Homo sapiens: one gene and its partner. The gene in region 1 interacts genetically with each later gene. Each region holds a gene or a part of one and is shown in the gene's direction. Other genes may lie near its edges.

Region 1 (2,732 bases):
TCAAATCTAAACTGCCCTGGGGCTATGCTTTGAATTTCAATCTTTCATCCTTGGCCTTGCTCTGAGCAGTTATTGTACTCACACCTTCCCCAGGCCTCAGGAAACTGGGAGAGGGGGGATCTTGACTGACATTTTAGATCCTGTCTGCTGCTCACTGATTATGACTGTGGACGCGTCTCCCTGCTTCTCTGGGTCTGTTTCTTCATCTCTAAAATAGGTATGCTAACATTCCAATGCTAAGTGTTAAACGAAGTTATGTTTATGGACATACCTTTTCTCTGGGGCCTTTTCTGTGGCTTTCAAAGTTGAAGCTGTGTGATTTGCCAGAGGCAAGAATGAGAAGTAAAATGCTGTAGCACTAAGAAAATGAGTGGAAGGGTAGAGCTGGAGGGGTCCAAAGGCTAAGCCTTTGTAGTGCAGGTGGGGAAGACCCAGGCAAGGCACAGGACTCTCCCCAGCTCCCGGGGAAGTGTGTGGTGGGTGAGGTTTAGTGTGGGCTGGAATTTTCTGAGCCTTTTCCTGAGAACTGATGTCTGTCCTTTATTCTTCTGCCCCCTATAGGATGCTCTGGAGTTTTGGCTGCAAGCTGGCGTGGATGGGTTCCAGGTTCGGGACATAGAGAATCTGAAGGTGAGTTCCCTTTCCACATTAGGGACAAAGCTTGGGCGAGAACAGAGGGACTCAGCTAGAGCCTCATAATATTCTCTGGTCCTTGATTCTGCTTTTTTCTTTCTAGGATGCATCCTCATTCTTGGCTGAGTGGCAAAATATCACCAAGGGCTTCAGTGAAGACAGGTGGGTGCAGGAGCCATTCTGCTGACTCAGCTCCAATGTGGGAACCCCTCAGTGGAGTGCTAGGCCTAAGAAGGGGGGATTCCTAGTCTAGAGCATTTTCTTTACCTTTATTCTTTCTTTAGCTTTTTTTTTTTTTTTTTTTTTTTTTTTTTTTTTTTGAGATGGAGTTCCGCTCTTTTTGCCCAGGCTGGGGTGCGATGGCGTGATCTTGGCTCACTGCAACCTCTGCCTCCTGGGTTCAAGCGATTCTCCTGCCTCAGCATCCCAAGTAGCTGGGATTACAGACGCGGGCCACCACACCTGGCTAATTTTGTATTTTTAGTAGAGACGGGGTTTCTCCATGTTGGTCAAGCCAGTCTCGAACTCCTGACCTCAAGTGATCCACCCGCCTCAGCCTCCCAAAGTGTTGGGATTACAGGCGTGAGCCACTGCGCCTGGCCCCATTCTTTCTTGTGCTAACCTTGAACTCCTCCCTCCCCTCTGCAGGCTCTTGATTGCGGGGACTAACTCCTCCGACCTTCAGCAGATCCTGAGCCTACTCGAATCCAACAAAGACTTGCTGTTGACTAGCTCATACCTGTCTGATTCTGGTTCTACTGGGGAGCATACAAAATCCCTAGTCACACAGTATTTGAATGCCACTGGCAATCGCTGGTGCAGCTGGAGTGTGAGTACCATGCTGGTGGGAAAGGGGGCAGATGGGAGAAGAAAGGGTTGTTGGGAGACAGAGGCAGAGGTGGGTTATGGGGCTCACTGGAGTGTCTCTCCCTGTAGTTGTCTCAGGCAAGGCTCCTGACTTCCTTCTTGCCGGCTCAACTTCTCCGACTCTACCAGCTGATGCTCTTCACCCTGCCAGGGACCCCTGTTTTCAGCTACGGGGATGAGATTGGCCTGGATGCAGCTGCCCTTCCTGGACAGGTACTGCTTGCTGTCTTTCTGTCACAGGGAGGTTGTTTATCCATCTTACAATGATGATTCTGGGGATGGCGGCACATAGACGTGAGCCTTGGGGTGAAAACGCGTTTGATTCTTAGTCAGTAGCTGAGTGGCTATGTGGCTTTGGGCAAATTATTTTACCTTTCTGAATTTTGGTCATCCCTTGTGTTACTGCATTTCTTGAAGGGTGGTTAGTATTAAATGAGGGCATGTTTTTAATGGTAATGCCTGGTACCTGGCAGATGTTTGCTATGGTAGCCACCATTCATTTATTCATTCCTTTATTCTTTGGACAGTGGGTACTGTGCTAGGCTCTGTGCCCTCAGGAGCTCATAGTTTAGTGAGGGAGCCAGATAAATAAGTGGAGAAGTACATGGCAGTGGCTGGGCACGGTGGCTCATGCCTGTAATCCTAGCACTTTGGGAGTCCAAGGTGGGTGGATCACTGGAGGTAAGGAGTTCGAAACCAGCCTAGCCAACAGGGTGAAACCCAGTCTCTACTAAAAATACAAAAATTAGCCAGGTGTGGTGGTGCACGCCTGTAGTCCCAGCTACTGGGGAGGCTGAGGCAAGAGAATCGCTTGAACCTGGAGGCAGAGGTTGCAGTGAACTGAGATTGTGCCACTGCACTTTAGCCTGGGCGGCAGAGGGAGACTCCTTCTCCAAAAAAAAAAAGAAAAGAAAAGAAAGAAAGAAATACATGGTAGGGATACTACTACAAAGGCATTCACTAGCTTTAGATACAGGGTTACTGTTGATCCCCGACTTTTTTTTTTTGTTTGTTTGTTTGTTTTTTGTTTTTGTTTTTAAGACAGCATTTCCCTATGTCGCCCAGGCTGGAGTGCAGTGGCATGATCTTGGTTCATTGCAGCCTCCGCCTCCCAGGCCGAAGTGATCATCCCACCTCAGCCTCCTGAGTAGCTGGGATATGTACCATAGATAGGTGCGTGCCATCATGCCCAGCTGATCTTTTTTTTTTTTGGAGACAGGTTCTTGCTCTGT
Region 2 (3,500 bases), on another chromosome or scaffold:
CAGGTCCAAGGGGGCTCTGGGCTGGGATTACAAAGTATGTGTGTGCAGACGGGTGGGTTGCTGCTCTCAGGGAATGGGGTTGGCTAGGGTAGCTTTTTTGGGGAGTCAACTTTATTGAAGTAAATATACGGTTGACCCTTGAACAACACAGGGGTTGAGGGCATCAACCTCCTCCCTGCAGTCAAAAAATCATATATTAACTTTTGACTCCTCAAAAACTTAACTACTAATAGCCTATTGTTGTCAGAAAGCCTTGTAGATAAAGTTGATTGACACTCATTTTGTTTGTTATATATATTATATACTGTATTCTTACAATAAAGTAAGCTAGTGAAAATAAAATAAGAAAATCATATGGCCGGGTGCAGTGGCTCACACCTGTAATCTCAGCACATTGGGAGGCTGGGGCAGGCGGATCACTTGAGGCCAGGAGTTCAAGACCAGCATGGCCAATATGGTGAAACCCTGTATCTACTAAAAATACAAAAATTGGTCTGCTGTGTTGGCGCACGCCTATGATCCCAGCTACTCAGGTGGTCAAGGCATGAGAATCACTTGAACCTGGGAGGCGGAGGTAGTTGCAGTAAGCCGTGAGTCACCCCACCACTGCGTTCCAGCCTGGGCGACAGAGTCTTGCTGTCTCAAAAAAAAAAAGAAAGAAAATCATAAGGAAGAGGAAATATATCTACTATTCTTTAAGTCGAAGGGGATCATTATGAAGGTCTTCATCCTTCACATTGAGTAGGCTGAGGAGGAAGAGGAAGAGTTGGTCTTGCCGTCACAGAGGTGGCAGAGGTGGAGGCGGAGGAGGTGGAAAGGAAGGCAGAAAAGGCAGGCACACTCAGTGTAACTTACTGAAAAACATCCAGCCACGTGTGGTGGCGCATGCCTGTGGTAATCGCTACTTAGGAGGCTGAGGCAGGAGGATTGGCTGAACCCAGGGGTTTGAGGCTGCTGTGAGCTATGATCACGTCACTGCACTCCTGCCTGGGCAACAGAGTGAGACCCTTTCTCAAAAAAAAAAAAAAAAGAAAAGAAAAAGAAAAAATCCATGTGTAACTGGACCTGCGCAGTTCAGACCCGAGTTGTTCAAGTGTGCACTATACACCAAAAAGTGTGCCGATCGCAATGGTACAGCTCAGTGAATTGTCACAGAGTGGACCCACTTCATGATTGGGCTCAGACAGTCTGAAAACCAACCCCAGAGGTCCCCTTGCATTCCTTCCAGTCTCCCTGTCCCAAGAGCAGCTATCCTGACAGCATGGATTAGTTTGGCCAGATTTTGAACTTTATTCAAATGGAATTACATAATATGTACTTTCCTGTGTCTGGCTTCTTGGTTAACATTTTATTTATTTATTTATTTATTCATTCATTTAGAGGCAGGGTCTCACTCTGTCGCCCAGGCTGGAGTGCAGTGGTGTGACCTTGGCTCACTGTAGCCTTGACCTCCCCAGGCTCAAGCGATCCTCCCACCTCAGCCTCCTGAGTAGCTGGGAGTACAAGCACGCAGTACCACCCCCGGCTAATTTTTGTATCTTTAGTAGAGACCGGGTTTCGCCATGTTGCCGAGACTGGTCTTGAACTCCTCCTGGGTTTAAGCCATCTGTCTGCCTCAGCTTCCCAAAGTGCTGAGATTACAGGTGTGAGCCACTGTGCCTAGCCATCATTATGTTTTGAAATTTATCGGGATTGGCCAGGCACGGTGACTGGCACCTGTAATCCCAGCATTTTGGGAGGCCGAGGTGGGTGGATCACCTGAGGTCAGGAGTTCGAGACCAGCCTGGCCAACATGGTGAAACCCCATCTCTACTGAAAATACAAAAATTAGCTGGTTGTGGTGGTGCATGCCTGTAATCCCAGCTACTCAGGAGGTGGAGGTTGCAATGAGCCGAGATTGTGCTACTGCACTCCAGCCTGGGTGACAGAGCCAGACTCCATCTCAAAAAAAGAAAAGAAAAGAAATTCATCAGTGTTATTTAATGGTTGGAGTTTGTGTTGGAGTTTATTTAATGGTTGGTGTTTACTGCTGTACGTAGTCCCTTTTGTGAATATGCCACTGTTTATCCATTTTCCTCTGGATCGGCATCTGGGCAGCTCCCAGTTTGAGGTTTATTACAAAGCATGCCACTTGTAGCCCTCCTGTGCCTGTCTAGGCAGACACATGTCCTGTGTCCTCTCGGTGTGTACCTAGAAGTGGGGTTGGTATATGTTTAGAGATGCTACCTGGGCGGGATTTTGCAGGTGAAGGACCCAAGGACCCACAGAGCATAAGGGACTTTCTCAGATCACATAGCCCCTTCTCAGAGCTGCTCCGGGGCCCCTTTCCCCACAGAACAGTAGCTGGAACCAGGCCTGGGGCTGACGGTCAGGTGTCCATTGTCCCACTAGCCCCCTTTGCTCCTTTCTATCAGTCCTGGAAGGCCCCCTGTGGCCTTAGGGTTGGTGGCTCCCTCTGCCCCTGGGGGTCCTCAGCCCTCATGCTCCTCTACCCAGTACCGTCAGCCTGCCAGGACTGGAGAGAATGGCCCATGTGTCAAATCCCAGCGCAGGACACTCTTGGCACCTGTTCATGCCCAGTGAGGAGCCAGATCTCAGCAGTTGGGGGGCATTTCTTCACACCCCTCCTCAGTCTTCATGCTCTTCCCCACAGCTCTAATGGTACCAAGTGACAGGTTGGCTTTACTGTGACTCGGGGACGCCAGAGCTCCTGAGAAGATGTCAGCAATACAGGTACCACAGGGGTGAGGGTCTGGGACATGCAAGCATTCCCACCAGCCCCAGCGGGGTGCTTAGCAGAGGAGAGAGGATGCAGCTTAGATCAACCCACTCCCCTTTTTCCCAGCACTCAGTCAGGTACAGGCCTGGGGAAGTGGGGGAGTCTCAACAGGAAGGGACCCAGGGCTCGTTCTCCGGGCAGAGCACCTCACCCAGGCTCACAGAGGCCAGCTCAGAGGCTGTGACCACGAGGGTGCGCCAGCAGGTGGCTGGAGGGGGCCCAGGCTGCACCCGCCCACGTGTCACCTGCCTTGCAGGCCGCCTGGCCATCCGGTACAGAATGTATTGCCAAGTACAACTTCCACGGCACTGCCGAGCAGGACCTGCCCTTCTGCAAAGGAGACGTGCTCACCATTGTGGCCGTCACCAAGGTAATCAGGTGACGCCCACCCCACCATCCCACTGCTGGGCCTTCCCTCTGCAGGGGGAGGTGGGCCTGAGAGCATGTCTGGGCTGCCCTCTCCCCAGGACCCCAACTGGTACAAAGCCAAAAACAAGGTGGGCCGTGAGGGCATCATCCCAGCCAACTACGTCCAGAAGCGGGAGGGCGTGAAGGCGGGTACCAAACTCAGCCTCATGCCGTGAGTACCACGAGGAGGGGTTGGGGAGGGAAGGGGCCTTGGTCCTCCTGAAGGAGCATCAGGAGCAAGCAGGGAGGCCAGAGTGAGGGGCTTGGGTGTTGGGGAGGGCCTCAGGAGGAGGTGCAGGGTGCGGGTGCGGGA

The links. Genes that interact genetically often act in the same process or in processes that back each other up.
Region 2: changes in SLC3A2 (region 1) and CSK are lethal when combined (synthetic lethality), as found in Homo sapiens cells (one large-scale study listed by BioGRID).

Annotation. Positions count from the first base shown.
Region 1 is NC_000011.10:62,883,896-62,886,627, forward strand, and holds part of SLC3A2 (amino acid transporter heavy chain SLC3A2), read left to right. Parts: intron 1-93; exon of another isoform or gene 94-217; intron 218-561; coding exon 562-630; intron 631-736; coding exon 737-795; intron 796-1,281; coding exon 1,282-1,462; intron 1,463-1,569; coding exon 1,570-1,713; intron 1,714-2,732. UniProt on the Homo sapiens protein: Acts as a chaperone that facilitates biogenesis and trafficking of functional transporters heterodimers to the plasma membrane.
Region 2 is NC_000015.10:74,795,580-74,799,079, forward strand, and holds part of CSK (tyrosine-protein kinase CSK), read left to right. Parts: intron 1-2,632; exon of another isoform or gene 2,633-2,653; 5' UTR 2,654-2,718; coding exon 2,719-2,733; intron 2,734-3,035; coding exon 3,036-3,149; intron 3,150-3,246; coding exon 3,247-3,359; intron 3,360-3,500. UniProt on the Homo sapiens protein: Non-receptor tyrosine-protein kinase that plays an important role in the regulation of cell growth, differentiation, migration and immune response.